Linked DNA regions of Homo sapiens. The protein of the gene in region 6 purifies or fractionates together with the protein of the main gene of each other region. This does not show direct contact. Each region holds a gene or a part of one and is shown on either strand. Other genes may lie near its edges. The genes, in order: HDLBP, SHTN1, NDFIP1, MAP1B, PRRC2B, SLC45A3 and EIF3E.

What was found.
Region 1: the proteins of SLC45A3 (region 6) and HDLBP purify together in Homo sapiens (affinity purification with mass spectrometry; one large-scale study listed by BioGRID and IntAct). This does not show direct contact.
Region 2: the proteins of SLC45A3 (region 6) and SHTN1 purify together in Homo sapiens (affinity purification with mass spectrometry; one large-scale study listed by BioGRID and IntAct). This does not show direct contact.
Region 3: the proteins of SLC45A3 (region 6) and NDFIP1 purify together in Homo sapiens (affinity purification with mass spectrometry; one large-scale study listed by BioGRID and IntAct). This does not show direct contact.
Region 4: the proteins of SLC45A3 (region 6) and MAP1B purify together in Homo sapiens (affinity purification with mass spectrometry; one large-scale study listed by BioGRID and IntAct). This does not show direct contact.
Region 5: the proteins of SLC45A3 (region 6) and PRRC2B purify together in Homo sapiens (affinity purification with mass spectrometry; one large-scale study listed by BioGRID and IntAct). This does not show direct contact.
Region 7: the proteins of SLC45A3 (region 6) and EIF3E purify together in Homo sapiens (affinity purification with mass spectrometry; one large-scale study listed by BioGRID and IntAct). This does not show direct contact.

Annotation. Positions count from the first base shown.
Region 1 is NC_000002.12:241,239,173-241,242,672, forward strand, and holds part of HDLBP (vigilin), read right to left. Parts: coding exon 3,288-3,500; intron 1,137-3,287; exon of another isoform or gene 951-1,136; coding exon 729-950; exon of another isoform or gene 649-728; coding exon 430-648; exon of another isoform or gene 330-429; coding exon of another isoform or gene 219-329; intron 1-218. UniProt on the Homo sapiens protein: Appears to play a role in cell sterol metabolism. It may function to protect cells from over-accumulation of cholesterol.
Region 2 is NC_000010.11:116,995,188-116,998,687, forward strand, and holds part of SHTN1 (shootin-1), read right to left. Parts: intron 1-3,500. UniProt on the Homo sapiens protein: Involved in the generation of internal asymmetric signals required for neuronal polarization and neurite outgrowth.
Region 3 is NC_000005.10:142,136,279-142,139,778, reverse strand, and holds part of NDFIP1 (NEDD4 family-interacting protein 1), read right to left. Parts: intron 2,046-3,500; coding exon 1,921-2,045; intron 1-1,920. UniProt on the Homo sapiens protein: Activates HECT domain-containing E3 ubiquitin-protein ligases, including NEDD4 and ITCH, and consequently modulates the stability of their targets. As a result, controls many cellular processes.
Region 4 is NC_000005.10:72,187,475-72,190,974, reverse strand, and holds part of MAP1B (microtubule-associated protein 1B), read right to left. Parts: intron 1-3,500. UniProt on the Homo sapiens protein: Facilitates tyrosination of alpha-tubulin in neuronal microtubules. Phosphorylated MAP1B is required for proper microtubule dynamics and plays a role in the cytoskeletal changes that accompany neuronal differentiation and neurite extension.
Region 5 is NC_000009.12:131,400,586-131,404,085, reverse strand, and holds part of PRRC2B (protein PRRC2B), read right to left. Parts: intron 1-3,500.
Region 6 is NC_000001.11:205,677,710-205,681,924, forward strand, and holds the start of SLC45A3 (solute carrier family 45 member 3), read right to left. Parts: upstream 2,801-4,215; 5' UTR 2,685-2,800; exon of another isoform or gene 2,661-2,684; intron 1-2,660. UniProt on the Homo sapiens protein: Proton-associated sucrose transporter. May be able to transport also glucose and fructose.
Region 7 is NC_000008.11:108,224,718-108,228,217, reverse strand, and holds part of EIF3E (eukaryotic translation initiation factor 3 subunit E), read left to right. Parts: intron 1-3,500. UniProt on the Homo sapiens protein: Component of the eukaryotic translation initiation factor 3 (eIF-3) complex, which is required for several steps in the initiation of protein synthesis.

The DNA.
Region 1 (3,500 bases), on a different chromosome or scaffold from region 6:
AGACCACGTCTTCTCATGACTTCCCATGGATTCACGTGGATGCCCTCAAATCGATTTTCTTTCCTTCACAGAGGGGAGAAGAGAGCTGACCCCTTAGACTGCATTTTCATTTTTCCTGATCCCTTATACAGAATGCATTTTCTTTCTTTCTCTTGCTTTCTTTCCTCTCTCTCTCTCCCCTCTCCTCTTCTCCTTCTCTCTCTCTTTTTTTTTTTAAGTGCTTCTCGCAGGCAGAATTCTCACCAACTATCAGGAAGGAGGCCAGACAGGCTGAGGAAAGAAGAGCGAGCACCAGAAAGCCCCTTCTGAAGCCTTCCAGGGCTGTATGAGGGAGTCACCTCCCTACAGGGTGGAGCGAACACTCATACACGGCTTCGGTGAGTGGCCACTGGGGGGTGAGAACCCCTCCCCGAGCACCCAAGTGCCTACCAGGTCCTCAATGATCTCCTGAATGCGTTTCTTGGCTGCCTCCACACAGTCCTTGGCGCCCTTGAGGGTGACTTTGTCGCTCTGTGTGCCAGAGCGTGGGAAGCTGACCATCACCCCGCCATACTCTTCAGCAATCTCCCGCAAGACCTGGCCTCTGCGGATGACGAAGTGGCGGTGGTGCTTGGGGTCCACCAGCATGGAGTCTTCCACCACATTATCCTGCAGTGTTAAGAAGAGATGGAAGATAAGCCACCCCATCACGGCCCCAGCAGAGTCGGCCGCCGAGGCCCGCTCCCTACCAGGTTTTGGATCAAGGCCTCCAGCTCCTTCTGTGCCTCTCGGACGGCGTCCTCCTTTCCAATGATGGTGATCAGGTCCTGGTCCTTGTCCTCAGCCGCAGGGAAGATGACACGTGCTCCAGTGCTGTCGCGCACCTTGCGAATTTTGCCGCCCCCCTTGCCGATGAGGAATTTGTGGTATTCTGGCTTGGCGCGGATGTCAACAGTGAAACTCTTGGTTTGCTGCAGAAACCAATCCCACTGTGTTAGCCTGACACCACGTGCCTGGACCACAGTGAGGAAGACAAGAGGGTCTGTAGGACAGCAAGCTCGGGCTCCCCTTACATTGTCACCAGTGTCCTGATGTTGCACCAATACCCCCAAAATGGGGCTAGCACACCTCACTGAATAAACAGATGAATACCCAGACTGCACACCTACTTCTCTTCCACAACAACCAGATGCTGGTGGGATGAACACACAGGCTTAGAACCCTGGTCCTGCCACTTACAAGCACTGACCAAACTTCTCCAAGCCATTTTTGATCTGCACAGGGGGAGGTGGGAGCAACGCGCCGGACGATATGTTGGCGGAGTGCACGTCCTGGGGAGCGTGGGGTGTGCCCAGCAGAGCAGGAAGCAAGCTGCCCAAGAGGTGTGCACCATGCTCCCACTCTTCTACCTGCTTCCAGACCAAGCACACACAAATCTGGGCCAGGCTCCCTTTCTTCCCACGAGTGCTACAGATCAGCCTCCACAAAACCAGCCACTCCCCAGGCTCAAGCTCAAGCTCAGAGGGACACAAGCCAACCAAGGCTACAGTTAGAGACCGGTCCTCAGAGGCCTCGTGTAGTGCGACGCCCTTGTGTGGCAGTAAGAAAACGAGGGTCCTGGAAAGGCCCCGGACACTGCTTGTGGACACCAGTGCTTCTGGCAGACCCACGCAGGGGCCCCGAGAAGGGCGCTGCTCCACGGGACTCAGGTCCACACGGGGAGCTCTTGCCTTTCTCCGGACCCAAGATCTGGCCCGCAAGCAAAAATACCAAAGAAAAACATGCTAGCACAAAAATATTAAATAACAACTTTGCTACCTTTTAAGTGCAGGTTTCACCAAATACCACCTAGAGACTCTGCTACTTTTCAAAGACATCCACAAATAGCAGCATTAGTCAAACATTAGGCAATCAATTAGGCAAATGCAATCTAGCAATATGGCCAAAGACAACCTACCAAACCAAGCAGGGATTACCCCAGAAACGCAAGGCTGGTTAAACACAAAGACAAAAACATCAATCTAATAACAACAACAAAAAAGACAAGAAATACAAGGCTCCAGATTAGAGAGAAATGTAACTGTCCACAGACCACGTGATTGTGACATATAAAATAAGGATCCACAAAACAGTGGGCCGGGCGCAGTGGCTCACGCCTGTAATCCCAGCACTTTGGGAGGCCGAGGCGGGCGGATCACGAGGTCAGGAGATCGAGACCATCCTAGCTAACACTGTGAAACCCCATCTCTACTAAAAATACAAAAAATTAGCTGGGTGAGGTGTCGGGCGCCTGTGGTCCCAGCTACTCGGGAGGCTGAGGCAGGAGAATGGCGTGAACCCAGGAGGCGGAGCTTGCAGTGAGGCGAGATTGCGCCACTACACTCCAGCCTGGGCGACAGAGCAAGACTCCGTCTCAAAAAAAAAAAAAAAAAAAAAAAAAAAAAAAAAAAAATCCACAAAACAGTGACTGGCGCTAATATACATGAGCTTTATTTAGCAGCCTCGTGAAGGTCAACATACAAAAACCACAGGCACTTCCATGTGCTAACAACTGGAAATGGAAAAAAAGTGCCATTTACAATAGCACTAAAAGAGTAACAGTAGTTAGATCTGTTAAGTCGAACATAAAAATGTGCTAAAAATTATAAAACACCAATAAAGAATCACAGACCTAAAAAAAATGGAGAAATGCCTGCAAAAGTCAAAACTGCTGAGCTGTCAATCCTCGCCAGTCTCATCTTCAAATTTCACACAATCCCAATCAAAACGTGAAAGTGCTTTTTTCCTACAAATTGACAGGCTGATCAGCAAGGGGTGTAGAACAGCCAAAGTTAAGAGGGCTCACACTACTGATTTCCAGACTTCCCATAAACCTGGTGTCACCAGAAGAGCCCGGAAACATACCCACAGATGGGTTTTGACACAAGGACAACAGCAATTCCATGGGCAATCTTTAGGGGTGATGGAAAATGAATTTTGATGATTGTGGTCACATGACTGCATGTTACTTAAAACTCAACTATACCTGAAGAATGGCCAATTTTACTGTAAATCATATTTAAAAAACAAAAGCACCCCAAAACTAATAAGCCAAAGACCAACTTTTATATATTGCATATGTGAGCGTTTGGACCTGGAAAGGCCCTCCAGTAACAGCAAAAACAAAGACGCATAAACAGTACATTATAGAGCTGTTTTCTGACCCGCCACAAAGGAAGGGCATTCAGGGGTTTCCACAGTGAGAAGCGAGAACACTGTACTGAGGACCAGGCTTCCTGCCAAGAGTCACGCTCCCTCCCCATGCTCACCTTCTCCTCCGCCAGATGCAGGAGCTGCTTCTTGGCCTTCTCCACATCCGAGGAAGGGCCCCTGATAACAACGGTGTCGCTTCCTGAACCTTCCACGGGAAAGTGAATGTGGACCCCGCCGCACTCCTCCATGATGGAGCGGATCAGACGGCCCTTGGTGCCAATGAGGGAGTTGTGCAGCTTGGCAGGGATGGAGACCTCTACCTCGGCTAT
Region 2 (3,500 bases), on a different chromosome or scaffold from region 6:
TTTTGCAAGCAATTATAATCCTAAAGTTTTGGGTCTTCAAGGAGGTATATGGGAAGAACAAAAAGAACTCTGACCTGTACAGGTCTCTGATAACTTTAAGGAAATACCAGTGGACTAGGTATGAACTCCAGAAATCTAAAGGAGAAACTGAACTCCTAAAATTGCTAACATCGAGCAAAATTAAGAATTAATTACATGGGACTAACATGATGAGGGACTGTGATTTTTAGGACTTTATTAGAAACACTACTGATTCTTTTATTTTCCAGATTTAGGAAAACATTTTCTTCTTTTGCGCTATCTATGGCTTAAGACAATTTGGTAAAGTATACTTTTGCAAATAGAATTGAAACATTTACTTTTCTTCCTTACTTGATCCCTCCAAAATTTGGAAACTATTCATGAGTATTCTTATTTTTAGGATAATATAGGCATTTGCATAAGTTCAGGAAGAATCCGTTCTTCTTTTAATAGGATACAATTGAAAATACTGGTTATATTGCCAAAGTTTGATGAGAATGTCGTATTTTCTGATATGACCAGTTTTTGGGAACTGAGGTCCCTAGAGGAACCTCAGTTTAATGGGGCCAATAAAGGCACCTTGGAAATACTGGCCTCGTACCTTGAATACATGGTTCAAATGGTTGCCTTATAGGGTAAAGAATGTCACCTTCCTGACAGGCCCAGGAACATCAGGAATCTAGGGAAGAGAGCTATCTATCTAAGACTACTATAGGCACAATCTGATGTTGAGTCCTAAGCTTGGCTTCTTAGCCTAAGGAGGCATTTTTGTAAGCCTAATCCGAGATTCCTTATGAAGAGTTCCAGCAAAGCAGATTTTAAAAGGGCTTACATAGTCAATCACTATTTTTGCTGCATTTATGTAAATAATTAGGCCAAGTATAATAGACAAAAACTTATTTTACAAATAAACTGGTCTTACTGATTCTTTTTGGTAGAAATTAGTGTGAGAGAGGAAAAATATTTTCAGAAAAATAATAGTTCAGAAACTATAGTTCACCCATTACTAGATTCTAGCCCTGTTCATTGTTTTTGAGATTTTATTAACTACCTGCAATCTGGAATGGATCCTAAATTCTTTTAGTTTTTTCTGATACCTGGCTGTGAGTCTCCAAACTAACATTTCCAATTTTTCTCCCACCCTTTGACCTGGAATCACTGAAATTAAAATTGGGCTTTTTCTGAAGCTATGCAAGCTAAAGCTGGACAACTTGATACAAACATAAGAGAAATCACCACAACAGCTTTTGTATCGACAACCTTTATGATATTTAAACTACAAACAAGGAAAATCTGTCAGATTGCAATTGCCTGCCCCACTCCAGCTGAAGACACTTTGAGCCTAAGATTTATAAATCCTCTCAACTGGCTGCTCTCCAGACTCAGAAACTAATTTATAGACTGCTCTAAACATTAACCTTGCTTTTCCTTTTTTTTCATAGAAATGTCTCTTATTAAGTATTTGTATGCTTATACATATAGAAACCTAACATTAAAGAGATCACCCATAACACCACCTCTTGAAATAAAACATGACTGTTTACCTAAACTAACCTAGTCTCAGGACTAAGAGACTGACTCAATAAGATATGAGACAATATACTTAAATCTGTTCTTTTCTGCTGGTTCCAATCTGGTTTTCTTCCCCTTTGCCAATCACTTATCTACAACCATACCTCTCCAAAGCTACCAGCCTAGCACATAATATGTGAGACTTTCTGAAAGTAAAGTTTCAAAGGGGAGAACTGAAGGAAACCAGCCTATCTCCCCAAAATATGAAAGACCTTCGAGCTAAAGATAATTAGGATGAAGGAAACTATCTGCCTTCCCTCTGTCTGCCTAAAAGCAGGACACAGAATTACAAAGACAAGAGGTCTATCTTCTCCCCATTTCCCACCTAAAAACAAGATACCCATTCTCCTTTACAACCCATATCACCTCAGAGATGGTGGCAGAGAAATCTGCGAGTAGACTTTACCCCAGGAGTTTCCCCATAAACTCACCTTCCCACATTCTCCTGCCTTTGGAAGCCTGGAACTGCTTTCCTTTGTCCTAACACTTTTCTAAATGTATAGTTCTTTGTTGAAGACAGTATGTTGAGCCACTGCTTATTTTTCTCCCTTGCGATGTGCACTGCATGCATTAATAAACTTGCTTGTTCATGTCTTTTGTTACAGGTATCTGTCCCAATTATGAACTTACAAGGTTTGAGGGACAGATTATTTTTTCTACCCTTCAATCCTTAAGGCATCTCTTGACTATGACAGTTTCTCAGACTTTACTCATTTTTATGACCTTGACAGTTGGGAGAAGTGCTGATCAGGTATTCTGCAGAACGTCTCTCAATAGGGATTTGCTGATATTTTCCTCATGAGTCGACTGGCTTTATGGGTTTTTAGGGGAAGACCACAGAGGTAAAACGCCAATTCATCACATCACACTATCATGCTATCATCATTGTTGATGTTGGCCTTGATCATCTAGCTGACATAGTGTTTGTCAGGTTTCTCCACTGTAAAGTTACTGGTTCCCCCTTTTCCATATTGTAGTCTTTGGCAGGAATTCACTATGTGCTGCCCACACTTAAGAATCAGGGAGTTAGGGCCAGGCGCGATGGCTCACGCCTGTAAACCCAGCACTTTGGGAGGCTGAGGCGGGTGGATCACGAGGTCAGGAGACCGAAACCATCCTGGCTAACACGGTGAAACACTGTCTCTACTAAAAATACATAAAATTAGTCAGGCATGGTGGCGGGCGCCTGTAGTCCCAGCTACTCGGGAGGCAGAGGCAGGAGAATGGTGTGAACCTGGGAGGCGGAGCTTGCAGTGAGCAGAGCTCATGCCTCGGCACTTCAGCCTGGGGGACAGAGCGAGACTCTGTCTCAAAAAAAAAGAATCAGGGAGTTAAGATACACCGCTTTGAGGGGGAACATCTACATAAATTATTTGGAATTGCTCTGCATGGGAGATTTGTCTTTAATCATTTATTTATATCAGTATCAACTCATGAATATTACTTCAAATTTTGAATTATAATCCAATATTCTGTTGTTCAGAGTTCCGTCTTTGGACATTGGATGTTCTTTCCATCGGCTCTTGTGTCTCTGACAGACAGTAGTTTCCCTCTTATCTACCGTTTCACTCTTCAGGGTTTCAGTTACCCATGGTCAACATGGTATGAAAATAGATGACTACAGTACCACAAGATATTTTGAGAGAGAGAGAGAGAGACCACATTCACATAACTCTTATTACAGTATATTGTTATAATTGTTCTATTTTATTATGAGTTTTTATTATCTCTTATTGTGCCTAACTTATAAATTAAACTTTATCACAGATACGTATGCACAGGAAAAAACTTGGAATATATAGGGTTTGTTATTATCCATGATTTCAGGCACCTACTGCAGGTGTTGAAACATAGCTTCCTCCATGGGTAAGCAGGGACTACAGTATCTCCATCAATGTCAGCTTATC
Region 3 (3,500 bases), on a different chromosome or scaffold from region 6:
CCTGAGTAGATGATACCATTGCCTTCTTTCTAATGAGGCCTGATTTTCTTCCTACTCCTCCAGCCTTGTCTTGACTTTGGAAGCTTTATCATGTATACCAGGGTAATCCCCTTCCCTTGCTGGTTTAGGAATGGGCACAGGATGCCATTCTGACCAGTGGAAATTGAGGGCTTCTGAGAAGCTTTCCTTGCTTCTCAAAGAAAAAAACAGTTCTTTCTAAAGGTGGTAGAAAATTTTTTTTTAAATAGTTCTTTTTCTTCTCTTGAGCACTGTCGTGTTTCAATGTAATACTGATACGTGAAACTGCCATCTTTTAACCCTGAGGGGAGGGGGGACCTGTGCCAATATGCTGATATGTCAGCTGTCCTTGATGATGTCAAAGAACCACTGACTTAACTAACCTTGTCAGGGACTTGTTTTCAGGGGAAATAAAATTTCCCCGTTTAAAAAAACAATTAAAAATTTTTTTCTAAGCCATTTTGAGCTAGGTTTTTGTTACTCACAGTCAAAAGCATCCTACCTGATACAAGTTAATTCATTTAACTTTTTTTTTTTTTTTGAGAAGGAGTCTCGCTCTGTCGCCCAGGCTGGAGTGCAGTGGCACGATCTCGGCTCACTGTAAGCTCCACCTCCTGGGTTCACGCCATTCTCCTTCCTCAGCCTCCCGAGTAGCTGGGACTACAGGCCCCCGCTACCATGTCTGGCTATTTTTTTTGTATTTTTTTAGTAGAGACGGGGTTTCACCATGTTAGCCAGGATGGTCTCGATCTCCTGACTTCGTGATCTGTCCGCCTCGGCCTCCCAAAGTGCTGGGATTACAGGCGTGAGCCACCGCACCCGGCCCATTTGATTCACTTTTTAAATGCAGTTGAAAATTTAGTTTGAAAAAAAAAAAAGACTGGAATTAATTTTATTTCTCTTTTCCTTGGAGGCTTTGGTGTCCAAGAGTTTAATGTAGTTCGAAAAGTAAAATATAGTATTTTCTTTGTTAATAAAGTAACAATTAAAATTTAGGGAAGGAATGAAAACCTCTTTAGGGCTCGAGTTCTTAACCTAAAGTCCATTATTATAGATGAGTACATATTAGCTATGTGGGGGAAAAGCTTACAACTTTCATCAGATTCCCAAAGGATTCTGGAACCCTAAAAACGTTAACAAATGTTTTATAATAAATAAGGTGGCACTACGTAGAAAAACTACAGTGGTCAAGCAACACCCATTAGTTAGTTAAGTATGCCAATTTATGACGGATAAATTGGTTTTGTTTATAAGGTTGACGATAGCAATAAATTTATCTGAAATCAGAGGATACTTTAAAAGCCTAGATCTTTTACAACTGTAAATTACTTCATGCAAATTTAACTAACTGGTAACTCTGAAGTCACTAAAGACATACATCTCTGTAATTTACTTGAGAGGTAGGCTCCTAATGGAGCAATACTTGTTAAACAGTTTTGGCTCCCCAAACATTTTGGCATAAGCAATCCTGGAAGGGAGAGGGGAAGAGAAGGAGAAAAGAAAAGAAGGAAGAAGAGAGCTAGATTAAAACTGTAACAGAATTAATGAGAGGAATGGCTGCTTTTGATGAGATATCAAAGGGGTAATATCCTTCCTTTTATTATAAAAACAACTAATTTCAGAACATATACATTATCATATTATAAACATTAAAAACAAACAAAGCAGATGGTGAACAATATTAATGATAGACCAGTTTTCAATAGATTTGACAACAAAACTTGTGTGCATGAACCATTTGCAAATGATTTTGGTTCAGCTTCATCATGAAACCACAGACAAACCAAAAATCATTTAACACACTGAAATAACTTTTAAAAAAGCAAATGAAAAATCGAATATTCAAAAATATTCTGATTATTGCCTCTCTGTAGAGCCCATCTTTTCTGTTATACAACTTACCCTGACAATCAGGATCCATTTAATTAGAGAGAGACCAAATCCTGAAATGGCCCCATACCTTCCTGCAGCTGAAGTGGTCAGGCAAAAAGACAGGAAAAACCCAATCCAGTTAAAGAGGAATGCCACTGCAAAAGCAGAGGAGGGGAAAGATGTTAGACATGTCCTGTTACCCAAGAACAAGAGTGCCTTACACCTGCCTCTGTTTAAATGACTTTCCAAAGGATAAAAGACAGCCTGTCCTCCACAACCGTCACCATACCTCCTCTAAAACATCCATTCTTCTGTCTTTCCCCAAAAAGCAAACAAGAAAAACTCCTCCCTATCAGGTTTTACACACTTATGTCTACTGCTAGTCACTTTCAAAAACGCCTTAATAGGCTGAGCACAATAGCTCACATCTGTAATCCTAGCACTTTGGGAGGCCAACGTTGGAGGATCCCGAGCCCAGCAGTTTGAGACCAGCCTGAGCACCACAGTGAGACCCATCTCTACAAAAACTGAAAAAAACAAAACAAACAAACAAACAAACAAAAGCCGGGCACAGTGGTGCACACCTGCAAGTCCCAGCTACTTGGGAGGCTGAGGTGGGGGGATCACTTGAGCCCAGGAAGTCAAGGGTACACTGAGAAGTGATCACACCACTGCACTCCAAATTCAGCCTGGGCAACAGAGCAAGACCTTGTCTCAAAAGGAAAAAGCAAAAAAAACAAAAAACAGCAAAAAGCAAACCTTAACATTCACCAAACTGTATACTTACAACCTCTGCTTTTTTTTTTTTTTTTTTTTTTGAGACTGAGTCTCACTCTGTCACCCAGGCTGGAGTGCAGTAGCACGACCTTGGCTCACTGCAATCTCTGCCTCCCAGGTTCAAGTGATTCTCCTGCCTCAGCCTCCCGAGTGGCTGGGACTATAGGCGTGCACCGCCAGGCCCGGCTAACGGCTAATTTTTGTTTTTAGTAGAGATGGGGTTTCTCCATGTTGGCCAGGTTGGTCTTGAACCTCTAGCCCCAGGTGATTCGCCCACCTCAGCCTTCCAAAGTGCTGGGATTACAGGCATGAGCCACTGTGCCCAGCCTTTGACCTCTTTTTTTTTTTTTTTTTTTGAGACGAAGTCTCACTCTTGTCCCCCAGGCTAGAGTGCAATGGTGCGATCTCACCTCACGGCAACCTCTGCCTCCCGGGTTCAATCGATTCTCCTGCCTCAGCCTCCTGAGTAGCTGGGATTACAGGTGCCTGCCACCACACCCAGCTAATTTTTGTATTTTTAGTAGAGATGGGGTTTCACCATGGTGGCCAGGCTGGTCTCGAACTCCTGACCTCAGGGCATCTGCCTGCCTCGGCCTCCCAAAGTGCTGGGATTATAGGCATGAGCCACCATGCCCAGCCTGACCTCTGCTTTTTACTGTGTGTGTTATATATATATAGTCCAGTAAATAAAATAAATGCCTTCAACATTAAATAAGTGCCCCCAAATAATCTGATTCAAGTCACTCATCCTCCTGTTCTCTGAATTTTGACAACTTATATAACATCACCTCTAAAAGCATTGCATTTTCTTATCTTTCTAATACAACAAATAA
Region 4 (3,500 bases), on a different chromosome or scaffold from region 6:
TGCAGGCATACTGGAAGAGGAAGGAAGATGTAAGAAATAAATGGTTTTACTGCAGATGAGATTAATGAAACAAGATTTGAATTTCTAAACCATGGCCTACGAACTACATTTCCTTTTTGATTAGGTTACTTGCTTGGCTGATGAGGAAATACAGTAGACAGTGTATCTCTGGGTTTTAGCCAGACATTTAATAGGACCCCTGAACAGTGTGATAGTAGAATTAGGTGGATTTCCAGCCAGCCATATAAATAGTGCTGCTTAATGTCAACCTGGAGGGAGGTCTATGATGGGCTGCCTCAAGTCTCATTTTCTGGCCTGTATTCACTTGGATAAAAATGGCGAAGGCATGCATATCATATTTGTGCATGGTATGAAAATGGGAGACACAGCAAAATGTGGAATGGCAGAATTAAGGTATTTATAAAAGCTCTTGACATTGGGATGATGGTGGCTAAGTCAATTCTAACAGGATGGCATTCTAAAGGGATAAATGTAAGGTTCAATAAACCAGCAGGGTAAACTACAGGATTGGGAGATGTGGCTTAACAATAATATCCATGGAAAAGACTCAGGGATTTTAGTTGACAGTCAAATGGATTTATCATGAAGCCAAAGAAGCTTAAACTTCAAGGTACCTCATTGGCATGGCCCTGTACTTAACTGTATATTAATAATTGTTTCATTTTTCTTAAAAAAGAGCCCTTAAATTATATAAATTGTCGAGCCCCTCAAAGCCTGCATCTCTTCCCCATTGACTTCCCCATTGACCATTAATGGTGTATGGTGATGGTCAAAAGTCACTTTTAGACTTCTTTAATAGAAGATGGTATTGAAAACTATAGACATTATCAACTCTCACAATCCTAACCTGGTCAAATGACTCCTGAATAGGGTGTCCAGTTTGAGTCATGACATTTTAGAGAAATTAGACCAACAAGCAAAAACCTGAAACAAGTCTCCCTTACTGGCTCCTTCCTCTTGGCCTTATGACCTGTCAACACTGGACCTGGGCCCTTTCTCTTCTTAAAATGTTTCTCACTCTAGGTCACATCATGTGTCTTCTGGGCTTCAAATACCTCTAATATGCTAATGGATTTCAAATTAGTATCTCCAGCCCGACTCTGAGTTCCCTGAGCTCTGTTCTCATAAATCCAACTGTCTGATTTCAAGGCACTAAAACATGACCAGGACTAAACTCCTGAATTCCCCCCATACCCATCCCATCTCCTCTTCTTTTTATTTTATTTTTTTAATGTTTTAAGTATAGTTTTTTTTTTTTTAAGAGACAGAATCTTGCTCTGTTGCCCAGGTTGGAGTGCAGTGCAGATTATAACTGAGTGCAACCTAGAACTCCTAGCCGCACGTGATCCTCCCACTCTGGCCTCCCAAAGTACTGGGATTACAGGCATGGGCCATAGCACCTGGCCTTCACCTCCCTTTCTTGACAGAGGAACAAGTTTGAAGGACAGTGAGCAGGGTTATGAAGAACTGTGGGTAAAACTGAAGATGATTAATCTGAAAGGGAAAAAATCGGCAGTGTTGGTGAAGGGTAACTAAGACACTGTAGGTGGGAAAGGGATCACATCACTTCCTTGAAGATACAATGAGACAAATAAGGAAAAACTTTCCAACACAGAGACTGAAAAATGTCCCCAGGAGATGATGATTTCACCATCCCTGGATTTCAGGGAGGAGTGGGGTTAGCCAGACAATTGTACCGTCTGTTAGTTCTGGTTTTGTTAATTGATCTCCAGTGATTAAGACTCCAAAACCTGAAGCTCAAAGTGTACTGATAGTTCTATTTTTTCAGTCCATTTATTTTTAGCTGTTCTTATATTTTTTAAAAAGTATCATTTTTGTTTGTCCCAAATTGTGGTTTTGGTTTCCCTGGAGTTAACTAGTATGTTTCAAGGACTGGATAAAAGGAAAAGAGCTGGACAACAAGTGGTCTTCAAGGTCCGTTTGTTATTCAGTTACTCAACCATTTTTCCAAGGCAACAATGGGCAATCCTAGCTCCAAAAGGCTGATAACCACTGGTCCAGTCCAGTGGTTTTCAATTCACTTTAGCTGTGGCATCCTTTCTTTGTGGGTGGCAGAAGAGAATATGACATGGTCTCTGACCATAATGATACCTGCCTGAGTATAATCAAAATATGTGTCCTCCAGAACCTACCCCAATAAGTATAAACCCTGGGGAATCTGCCCTTCCACGGAACTCGAGTTCTTCAGTTAGGGCAAATTTTTTTTTCTGTAATTAGTGGCAAAATCTGACACGTGCACAGTCCATGGTGCTAAAATTTTGCTTCCATAATCTAGTAAAAATGATTAAGCAGCAATATTCATAACAACCTTATTTAAAGAAGGGGAAGGAGGGATATTATTTGAGATGCAAATATGCCAAATCGTGTTACTTCCTTATTGAAAATCTTGGCAATGACACTTTTCTTTACATATTTCCTTTGTCTGGTTTTTCGGCAAAAAAGACAAACCAATGACTTGGGTAGAAACCAACCACTAGAAAATAACTACAGAACTGCACAGGAATGTGGAAAGTGCCCATGTGCATGCAAATGAGCTATAAGCAGGCCACTTAACTGCTCACCATGTCATTGGGCCACTTCCAGCCTTCTGCAGCTTTCTCTCTTCCCTGAGGCAAGATGCTAATAATGTGTGTGACCCCAGAGCTACTAGACAAATGCCCACCTGCCTCCGGGTACAACATGCACATGGGGACATAATCTTGCAAAACATTCTGACATTATAGTGATCAAACAACAACTTCAGGACAGTAGGCAGAGTGAGAATTGTAGCCCTAGCTTTGGAATTTCAATGCAATTGAACAGCGGCTTACTAGGCCTTTACTATGTGCAGGTGCAATGGATACCGAGATGAATGAGGCAAGATGCGTGAACTCTAGCGGCCTTGGAAGAAGACACAGCCAAAGCTTGCATTTTGAAGTGGTAAAGATGAACCAACTGTGAGTGAGCTCTGAAGCCTCTGAGAAAGGAGCTGCCTGCCTGGGGGATCCCATCCTGGTATGTGTTTCAAGATGCAGATGACGCCACACCTTCTGACAGCTGTGGCTTCAAAAATGTTCCTTTTCACAGTTTTACATTCTCCCCACCCCAGTGGCTGGAGAGTGAACATTATTATGCCTTCTGATCAGTGTTTTTAAAGAAGCCTCCAGGTGACTCAGATGAAGTTGGGCAGTGTGCTTACAGTTCTTGCCAGTGATGAAAAGTACAAACAGAGCTTTCTCTGAACCTCAGGGCCAAGGAAAATTAAGTGCAGAAGGACACGTGGCCCTTCACAGTACACATGAGACAGACAAGCCACCACCTCAGAAAGACAGTTTTAAACAGATGTGGGGACTCTTCTTATCAGAACATCCCTCAGTCCCTCCATGTAGAAATCTGCTATCGGCCACAGGCAGGCCCCAACCTGCTATGGGGATGGGTCTGAATTGTTTCTGTAATTGCTATAAACATGTAAGCTAGAT
Region 5 (3,500 bases), on a different chromosome or scaffold from region 6:
AAAATGGCTGGGTGTGGTGGCTTACACCTGTAATCCTAGCACTTTCAGAGGCCAAGATGGGAAGACAGCTTGAGGCCAGGAGTTCAAGACAAGCTTGGTCAACATAGCGAGACCCACCCCCACATCCCTAAGGAAGAAAAAAAAAGTATTACTGAAAATAAAAATAAGAGAAGTTACGCTTAAAAATACGTATGGAAAAATACTGTGATATTTTGAAAATGCCAAGTTGCAATACAATATAGTATATCCCATTTTTGTTTTTTAAAAAACCTCCCTACATGAGGCCATATTTATACGTGCACTGAGCCTAGAAGGATAAACAAAGCAAATTTATCAATAATGGTTACTGCCTGGGACATTGGGGAAAAGCTTTCATTTCTCTTCAAACACTTGGCTTTTAATTTTGTTTTTTTTTTTTTTTTTAAAGTATGGGCCAGGCGCAGTGGCTCACGCCTGTAATTCTAGCATTTTGGGAGGCTGAGGTGGACAGATGGCCTGAGCTCAGGAGTTTGCGACCAGCCTGGGCAACAAGGCGAAACCCCATCTCTACTAAAATACAAAAAAAAATTAGCCAGGCGTGGCGGGATGCACCTGTACTCCCAGCTACTCAAGAGGCTGAGGCAGGGGAATTGCTTGAACCTGGGAGGTGGAGGTTGCAGTGAGCCGAGATCATGCCACTGCACTCCGGCCTGGGCAACAGAGCAAGACTCCACCTCAAAAAAAAATAAATAAATAAATAAAATAACCTGTATACTTCTGCAATTAACATTTTACCAAAAACAAACAAACAAACAAAAAACCAGAAAATACCACATTATGATTCAGGACACTATCCTCTTCCCAAGGACTTCTGAACACTTGGCCCATTCAGTCCACCGACAGGTCGGTTGGGCAGGCAGGCAGGAGTGATGATGCCCCTCCCAGACAGGCCTGTGCTTTCTGCCCTGGCCTGGAACACAGCTGTTCTTTAAGCTCTGAACCATATGTAAACAACACCTGCCGAAAAAAGTTCTGCAAGACACAAAGGACCCATGGAAAGAGTCCTGGAGATGACCTCCTTTTTCCAGTAGGTCCTGCAGCGATCCATCCCATGGTTCTATACAAAGAGATGATCCTGAAGCGTGTCGGGAAGTTGACGCCGGCTTCCCGGAGGCACAGTCATTCTCTGCCCTCCTCCCTGCTGGCCACTGGCCATACAAGAATGCTTGCATAATGTTCACCATTCAAAGGGCCTCGGCACTCTCTGGAAAGCAGGCTGACCCACAAGTTCTCTTCTGGGACCCATACATTTCTGATTTCCACATAGGAACACATTTTTAATGTTCCAGGGCTCAGCACACTATTTTCAATAGGTGCTTATTTCGAGTCAGCTACATTTTCCAGAATGCCTTCCCTGACTGCCCCACACCCAGACTGAGGTGAGCTTGGTTTCTGCGTGGGCTCCTATAAGACCCCCTTCTCAGACACCTGGCACACAGTGATGAATGGGAAACAACAGAATTCTGCTTCCGGATGCATTTACTCACTCCACTGGGGGAAAGGACCATTCAATACATGAAAACAAAACTATCTACAGGCTGCTGCCCGTCGCTGAATGAATAAATAAAATGTGGTAGATACATGCAAATAAGAGAATATTATTCTGCCTTAAGAATGAAGTTAGTTCTGACACATGCTGCAACATGGATGAACCTTGGAAATACTATGCTAAAAATAAGCCAGACACAAAATGACAAATACTGGATGATCTCACTTACATGAGGTACTTAAGAGTATTCGGTTTCACAGAAAGAAAGTAAAATGGTTGGCAGGGCAAGGTGGCTCAACATTGCCACCATGGGATTACACATGGCTGTAATTCCAGCACTCTGGGAAGCCGAGGCAGGCAAATCGCTTGAGCTCAGGAGTTCGAGACCAGCCTGGCCAACATGGCGAAACTCCGTTTCTCCTAAAAATACAAAAATTAGCCAGACCTGTAATCCCAGCTATTCAGGAGGCTGAGGCAGGAGAATCGCTTGAACCCGGGAGGTAGAGGTGCAGTGAGCCGAGATCGTGCCATTGCACTCCAGCCTGGGAGACATAACGAGACTCTGTCTCAAAAATAATAACAATAATACAAAAATTAGACCAAGCACAGTGGCTCACGCCTGTAATCCCAGCACTTTGGGAAGTCGAGGTGGGCAGATCACCTGAAGTCAGGGGTTCGAGACCAGCCTGGCCAACATGGTGAAACCCCGTCTCCACTAAAAATACAAAAATTAGCTGGGCATGGTGGCAGGCGCTTGTAATCCCAGCTACTCGGGAGGCTGAGGCAGGAGAATCTCTTAAACCCAGGAAGCAGAGGCTGCAGTGAGCCGAGATCGCGCCATTGCACTCCAGCCTGGGCAACATCAAAACTCTGTCTCAATAAAATAAAATAAAATATACAAAAACTAGGCCAGGCACGGTGGCTCATGCCGGTAATCCCAGCACTTTGGGAGGCTGAGGTAAGCAAACCACTTAAGGCCAGGAGTTCGACACCAGACTAGCCAACATGGTGAAACCCCGTCTCTACAAAAAAATACAAAAATTAGCTGGGTGTGGTGGCGTGTGCCTGTAATCCCAGCTACACAAGAGGCTGAGGTTGCAGTGAGCCAAGATCGTGCCACTGCACTCCAGCCTGGGCGACAGTGAGACCCTATCTCAAAAAAAAAAAAAAAAGGAGAAAGAATGGTAAGAATGGTGGCCGCCGCCACTGGATGGGGGAGGGGAGTTGGCATCTAATGGGAACAGAGTTTCAGTTTGGGAAGATGAGAACGTTCTGGAGATGGATGGTGGTGATGGTTGCACAACACTGTGAAAGTGCTTCACGCCACTCAACTGTACACTTAAAAATGGTAAATTTTATGTTATGTATACTTCACCACAATTTTTAAAATTCAAATAAAGAAAAAAACACCTATTTACAAGTTGTGAAAACTGCTATAAAGAGAAACTGTAGGGGGCTCCGAAGAAATCACAGGAGGCTGAGGCAGGAGAATCGCTTGAACCCGAGAGGTAGAGGTTGCAGTGAGCCAAGATCGCGCCATTGCTCTCCAGCCTAGGCAACAAGAGCAAAACTCCGTCTCAAAAAAAAAAAAAAAGAAAGAAAGAAACCACAAGAGGATGAGGCCAAAGTTAGGTGGGGGGCTCTCCAGGGCCTCCTCCCCACCAGACCAGGATCTCCCCAGGAGTCAATGGGGCATCCATGTCCCTAGAAACAAAAACTGTTTAAGACAAAAGGCTTCTCCAGGTTCAAACCAGTAAATGGAGTAAGACCTCAAGCCCCACTCATCAAAGGGCTTAACCAGGACTGAGACCCCCCAGAACCTAGTGGCTCATGAAAGAGGCTGCCTTGCTGGGTGCCGTGGCTCATGCCTGTAATCCCAGCACTTTGATAGGCGGAGGCGGAGGGATCACTTGAGTCCAGGAGTCTGAAACAGCCTGGGTGTCCAGGCACGGTGGCTCACACCTGTCATCCC
Region 6 (4,215 bases):
AGGCTAGGCACTGCTGTCCATTCAGTCCCAAATGATCGATACAATATATAGTTGGTACTAACATTTATTGAGCACTTATGTGTCAGACACACAGTTTAGTATTCTATATACAATATTTAATAAAGCTATAATTTTTAGACTATATATAACGTAATTATATGTTTATAAATTTTATGTCTGTTATAATCTACTTAACAAAGCTATACAGTAAGTATTATCATTCCCATTTTGCAGCCAGGGATACTGAGGCTTGGACGAGGTTATGTAACTTGCCAAGCTGGTGGAGCTCACCTAGTGAAGCAGCCAATATAGAAACTTTCTTTCTGGCCGGGTGCGGTGGCTCACACCTGTAATCCCAGCACTTTGGGAGGCTGAGGCGGGTGGATCACCTGAGGTCAGGAGTTCAAGACAAGCCTGGCCAACATGGTAAAACCCTGTATCTACTAAAAATACAAAAATTAGCCAGGCATGGTGGTGGGTGCCTGTAATCCCAGCTACTTGGGAGGCTGAGGGAGGAGAATCACTTGAACCCAGGAGGCGGAGGCTGCAGTGAGCTGAGATCGTGACATTGCACTCCAGCCTGGGCAACAAGAGTGAAACTTCGTCTAAAAAAAGAAACTATCTTTCTGACAGTCTGGGTTTTTATCCATGTTGACTTATCAGGCTGTGACGTCCAGATGATAGTACTTAAAGTCTTCAAGTTAACTTTACTTTGAATCTTCAGACCAGCCCTGCCCAGGCTGAGAGCTCCAGTCTGGGTAAGGGGAGAGCTGGAGAGAGGCCTCCACTATCCCTCCACCACCCAGTGGCCTGGAATGGGCTCAGGAGACCACCAGGGATCACTGTCTACTCCTCCTCCTCCTTCAACGTTATTCAGGGAGCCAGGAGGGATGGGGAAGTTCACCACACACTCCATGAATACATAGGAAAACTCCCCCTAACACACACCCACTAAATTGGGGCCTGTCTGTCCACAGCTGTACATTCATCCACAGCTGTATTTTTATCTTCAAACTCATTCTGCTGACTCAAGCTGCATTTTCTGAGCACTTTCAGAACAACAGAGTCCTGGCTCCACGACAGGCCTGGTGGGAGGAGATAAGGGAGGAATGAGGGAATGGGACTGATCCAACAGAATGGCCTGCGACCTCAAATTGCGTCCCACTTATCCCCTACAATATGCTGCTCTATGGGTTTCCTCAGGCTTCCCGTCTAGCCTGGGCCTCCTGGGCCCTCCCACTCCCACCCCAATAGGCCAGCCTGTTTCCCAGGCCTCGGGCAGGTGAGTCTACACCAAGGCGGTCTCTGCTCTGAAAGGAGATCTGCTAAGTGCCTCAGGAAAGGTAGTCCGAAGCCCCTAGGACCTCAACCCCACCCCTGAGCAAAGGTTCCAGGACCCCAGCAAGGGTCACTGCGGGCCCTGGTCAACTGGCAATGCCCGGCTGCAGACTCCAGGGCAGCAAGACAGCAGCTGGGCTATTCTTAGTCCCTGCTCCACCGGGACCGGGTCTGTGTAACAGCTGAAGGGCGAGTCCTCACCAGGTACCCACCATGCCAAACCCCTCCCTACCCCCAACTCTGGCCCCTTGGAAAAAGAGGAAGCATAGGGAACACGCCCTGGAGTGGGGAAAAGCTGAGCAGGTCAAGAGTGTCTGTCAGGAAGATGGAGGCTGATTCAGAGGTCAAGGGCAAGAGCAACTCACAGGACTGCAGTGCCTGGGGGGAGCGGAAGACTACAGGAAGGCCTGACCCGCACTAGGGAGAAAGCATGCAGGTCCCTGGGGCTTTTCTAGCAAGCCTGCCTAGGCCCAGAGCTCTGAGAAGCTGCACGGGATGCCTAGGTACCACCACATCACACCTGTTTGCCGTTTGCAGAACTCTGTCCTTCCCCACCTGAGACCTGGGAGGCGAGGAGAAAACAGCGGCCTTTCTCTCCCCACAGAGGGGGAAACTGAGGCTGAAAAGGGGACACAGTAACACACACACACACACACACACACACACACACACACACACGGTCCAGTCCCAACTCTGTACCCAGAGCTCGCCCCAGTTCTAAGTCCAAGAGGGCTCAGTCCCCTTTCCCTGTCTTAATAACTCACTCTTCCTCAAGAAAGCCGGCCTGGGCCTGAGCACCCCGCGGCGCCGCGGCCGTCGGCTCCCGTCCCGGCTCCCCCAAGTCCCGGACTGTGCGCGCCGCAGTGACTCATCCTGCCCCTTTCCGGTGAAGCCCAGACAAGAGAAGAAAATAAACGCAACTTTCCAAAGAAAAGTCTGACACGGGAGGCTGCAACAGGAGCCAGCGGCCGGTCCGCCAGCCGTCGGCCCGGCCCGGTCCGGCCCGGCCCGGGGCTCCGGGGAGGGGCCGCTCCCCGCCCACACCGCCGCCCCGCCTGGGACAGCGCGGGCACCTCCTGCCTGCCCGCCCTCCGCGGAAGAAAGCACAGCTCAGCGGGGACCCGTGCAGGCGCCGGGCACTCGGCACCCGCCCCGGCAGAGCGTGTGGGACGCGCCCTCCTCTGGGATTCGCGCGGGGCTCGGCGCGCAGCGCCCCGGACGGCCACGGCGCAGCCCCATCCCGCGGGGCGCAAAACACGCGACAGCGCGGAGCTCGGCCGTGCACTGCTGCTCCCTTTCCCGCGCCGGGACCCTCACCCCTGGGAGAGGAGGGGGCGCGCTCCTACCTGGCCGAGGCGCGCGGCTGTCACCCGGAGCCAGCGCGTGCAGGCTGGTTCCGCCCCCCCTTCCTTGCCCCCCACGCGCGCCAGCCGGCGGCTTTTAAATCTCCAGGTTACTCCGCGGGGGGAGAGAGCATGCGCGCTGGGACTGCCAGGAGGGGGGCGGGGCGAGGCGGGACGGAGGTGGGGGGTGCTGCGAGGGGGGATAGAGGGGTGGGGCTGGTACCCAGGGGAAGAAAGCGGGAGGTCTCGAAGCTGGCTTTGTAGCCGCGCCGCGACGGGCAGCCCCCGCGTGGCTCCCAGACTGCCCTATCATTACCTAGGGCAGGGCACCGCCCCCTCTGTCGCTCGCCACCAAACATTTAGGTGAAAGCTACCCGGCTTCGCGGGGCACCTCCCCTCCCCTACTCGGAGCCAGTCTGCTGCGACCATTACCCAGGCGTGCCATTCTGGCCACCCGATCTCCAGGCAGAGCTGCTCCCTACCTGTCCAGGACCATCCCTTCAAAGGAGATGTCACATTCTCTCCGAATTACCCTTCTGCTCTTTGCTATTCTCCGACGCAGACAGAGCTAACTCAATCCCTCTTTCTGCGCTGAAAACCAAATTCCAATTTTTTTTCTTCTTAAGAGTGTGTACGGGGAAGAATGGATGATAAATTGCCAATGAAATGTTCTCTTTGTCAGCTGTTGAGCAAGGTCCGAACAGATACCTGTTCCAGAATGTCTTTGATGGAGTCCCAGGCTGGCCCTGGGGTTGGGGGTTGGGGGGCAGTTTTGTCTTTTTTTCCTCCATGGAGTTTTATTGGGTGGAGAGAAATCCAATTTAGTTGGATTGTTGACTTGAATACTACAAAGTCCCAGGAAGATGCCTTCGAAGGGGAAGACCTGGTTGGCCTTAGCCAACCAGGCACTGGGGCACTGGGTTCCAATGCTGGCCCTGTGTCAACAGCCGTATAACGTGGGCCAAGTCCCTTCCATGTTCTGGGCCTCTGTAAGAGGGGGTGAGCCAAATGATTTCTAAGGGCACCTTCCAGCTGAGAGGTAGAAGGAGGCAGAGAAGAAAGGGAGATAGAGAAGGGAGAGGAAATAGTGGCGCCCTGGTGGTAGTGGGGAACAGAGAGCAGGTGCCAGAGAGAGTTGAGAAGAGAAAAATCAAGAATCTACCTTCTGAGTCACTAAACAAGTTTAACTTGAAAACTGTCTCAGCGTTGCCTCCCTGGAGCAGACACACCTCTACCTGGGGACCCTCCTGGAGATGGCTTTCCAAAGTCTTTGGCATACCCTCTCGTGGCAAGCAGAGAGACTAGGGTGGAGTCCAGGGTCTCTGAGCTGGTGTCCCCTCTCCTCCAGGAAAGAGGTCAGGAGTCAGGGGAAATTTCAGGTCAGCTGGAAAATTACAGAGCCAGGAGAGAGTGGACGGTGGTATTTTGCAGGCTTGGGAAAGAACACTGGGAACATGAGAGAGTTGTCGCACCACAGACAAGTAAGAGCCCCCCTCTTCCTCCTGCCTCCCACCACTTCTTTCCAGGGGCCCTT
Region 7 (3,500 bases), on a different chromosome or scaffold from region 6:
GGAGTTGTTTAAACTTAAAATATACTTTTTTCTATCATTTGAATTTGTTGTCACCTGTTTTTTTTTTTCTTCATGTAGTAGATTTGCTTGTTACTGAAAAGTATGCATGTGACTCTTAAGTAAACTATTTGACAGAGTGTACCCTAAGCCTTTTAAAGTGCTATTTAAAGTGTGGTCCCTGGGCCAGCAGCATAGAAATCATATAGAATCTCAGGACTCACCCTAGAACTAAATTAGAATCTGCATTTTAATAAGATCCCAGGTAACTCATGTAAACATCAAAGCTTTAGAAATGAGGCTCTAGGGCATACTACTTGAAAGGAATACGTGCATCTTTTTATATCATCTTTGCTCTGTCAACTAGCTTTTGTTTAATATTTTGGTGATGAGAAATTCACTGCTTATGAACTAGACCATTCTTTTGTAAGCTAGAAATTATTTGTAAAATTTACTCTTCCAGTGGAACTCAAATACCTCTGAAACTTCTGCCCATTATTTCTTGTTTGTTTGGAATGACAGAAAACAAGACTGCTTCATGGAAACTCTTTAGATGTTTTAAGATAATTTTTTACTCCTCTCTGCTTCCTTCAGGCTAAATATCTCTAGTTTTATTAAGTAACACAGTTTTTCAGACCCTTTAGTATTTTGATTGCCTTTTTAGATAATTTCTATTCATATTCTTACAATCTAGATGTTCATAATTGAAATTTTATTCTAGGATTGTCATCTAAACTTTATAGATTACAGTGGCAATATTAGCTCATGTTACTTGTATGTATGCTTTTACTAATATAGCCTAAGATTGCAGTAGCAATTTTAGCAGTTGCTTCATGGTATGAGTTATATTGTATTGACTATATTATTGGGCAAATTTTACAATAACACTTTTTTTTTTAGATAATGTCTGGCTGTGTTGCCCAGACTGGAGTGCAGCGGCATTATCTTGCCTGACTGCAGCCTCTACCTCCCAGGCTCAAGCCATCCTCCCCCGTCAGCCTCCCAAGTAGCTGGGACTACAGGCACATGCCACCATGCCTGGCTAATTTTTCTATTTTTTGTAAGACAGGGTTTCACCGTGTTGTGCAGGCTGGTCTCAAACTCCTGAGCTCAAGCAGTTCTCCTACCTCAGCCTCCCAAAGTGCTGAGATTACAGGCATGAGCCACTGGGCCCAGCCCTACATTAACAGTCTTAGTTCATACTTTTACTATTTGTTCATCTAAATGAAGATTTTATAGTTTCATTACATTTTATCTTGTAGAAATGAAAATGGTTTCATATGACAAATGAAATAATAAGAATTCTAAATCATTAGGAAATACTATATACTTGGCTGATATCCTCCAAAATCTGAAATACCCTGTGTGGCATTATCAGATCAGTTAACTGAGGGAGGAATCATGGGGGGTTTTGCTTTGTTTTTAAATGATTCCATTAACAGGATTATGGGTCCTGATGAATGTATTGGTCAGTATTTAAAAAGTGTGTGCATATGGGAATATATCCTAACTTTGTGGGGCAAAAAATCCCTTATTTGAACATCCAGTAAAGCCTTCCTCCTCAAACATTAAAGTTAGATAGATATACACTGAAAAGCCATTGGATATTTGGAAGGAAGAGAAAAATGATATTAAAATTATATTTGGGAGTATTTTTACCAGCCAGTGCTTCTTAAACATTTTGGTCTTGGAACCCGTTTACACTGTTAAGAATTATTGAATGTAGGCCGGGCGCAGTGGCTTACGCCTGTAATTTCAGCACTTTGGAAGGCCGAGGTGGGTGGATCACCTGAGGTCAGGAGTTCGAGACCAGCCATGGTCAACGTGGTGAAACTCCATCTCTACTAAAAATACAAAAAATTAGCCCCACGTGGTGGTAGGCACCTGTAATCCCAGCTACTCAGAAGGCTGAGGAAGGTGAATTGCTTGAGTTTGGGAGGTGGAGGTTGCAGTGAGCCTAGATCACACCATTGCACTCCAGCCTAGGCAACAAGAGTGAAGCTCCGTCTCAAAAAAAAAAAAAAAAAAAGAATTATTGAATGTAATTTTCTTTGCATTGGTTTTATCTCTTGGTGTATACAGTAAGTCCTCAATATTGTCTCTAGGTTCTTGGAAACTGCATCTCTAAGCAAAACAATGAATAATGAAACAATTTTCTTTCTCAACAGCTTCATAATGAAAGAATGTTACTTGGTTTTAAAGTCGTAGTTTCCAAGAAGGTACCGATTATGTTAAGGACTTAACTGTATTAAAAATCAAAACAAATTAAAAATTTTCTCATTAATAAATGGTAAATTGATTCAATTTAACACATAATAGAATTTTAACGAAAGTAACTTTGAAAACAAAATTAGTGAGAAGAGTGACATTGCTTTACATTTTTGCAGACCTTCAGTTGCTGGGTTAATTGACAACTGGGTTTTCATGCCTGCTTTCTTGCAGTCTGTTGTGATGTGCTTTAACTGTAGGATGAAAAACCTAGCTTCACACATGTAGTTGGAAAAGAAAGGTGTGTTTTATTAATAATATCCTTTTCCGATAATTGTGAATATTCTTTTTTGAAGATACAGTAAAATTCAGTAAGAAGTACAGATAAAATAAAACTCAACAAGAAATAGTTTTTAAAAGGTTGTTTGTAATGTAGAATCTGAAACCATGTGGTTAAACTTTTTGGGATCCTAAGCTGTACTGGTATTCTAGACTGTATTGAGCTATCTTGCACTTGGAATGGATCTTTTTTACCCATGCATGATTTTATAGTATCATTCATTGGTTGTTTGGGAAATACTTACTGGTCCAGTGAGTTATGCAGGTATTCCAGTGTGTTGACATTATACAACACCAGAAAAACCACATTCATGAACATCACTACCAGACCCATAGAAACGGGTTTAAGCATTGGAAAGCTTTCAAGCTCCCAGTGGCTGATACAAATTTTCCAAAATTCTAGTTTTTCTTGAAAGCTCTAATTTTATCATTTGTTTTTCTTGAAGGACAGGCTCACTTCATTTTCTAGAAAATGTCTGGCAAATTCCCAAGTCTGAATGTCTGAATAGCTTTAGTTTGTCTGCCATTCTTTCAAGTAAAAACAGTGTTCTGTGAGAAAAGCAGCTGGTTCATCTTGTTTCTCAGTTGCACAAGTGCTTTTCCTTAAGGACAGCCGTGACAGTGAAGTGTGTATACAGCAGAAGCACTTTATGAATACTTACCATTTAGTCATACAGAAGACTAGAAAGATTAGTACTTAAGGGTTGAAGTTTTTAAAAATTAATTTGGGCTACGTGATTCAAGGACATAGTTGAAACTTTTTGTGTGTTTTTTAAAACTGCAAAAGTGTGGTGGTGAAAAATATAGGGACTGCTAGTATAGTTTGATGCCACTGCTTTGATTTACTCTAAAGTACAAGAAGAATTTGTTTGTTTATAGTTTAGTAATTTTTAGTAACTTAACTGAGTGATATAACCATCACAAGTCAGTTTTAGAACATTTTTATTGCCCCAGTA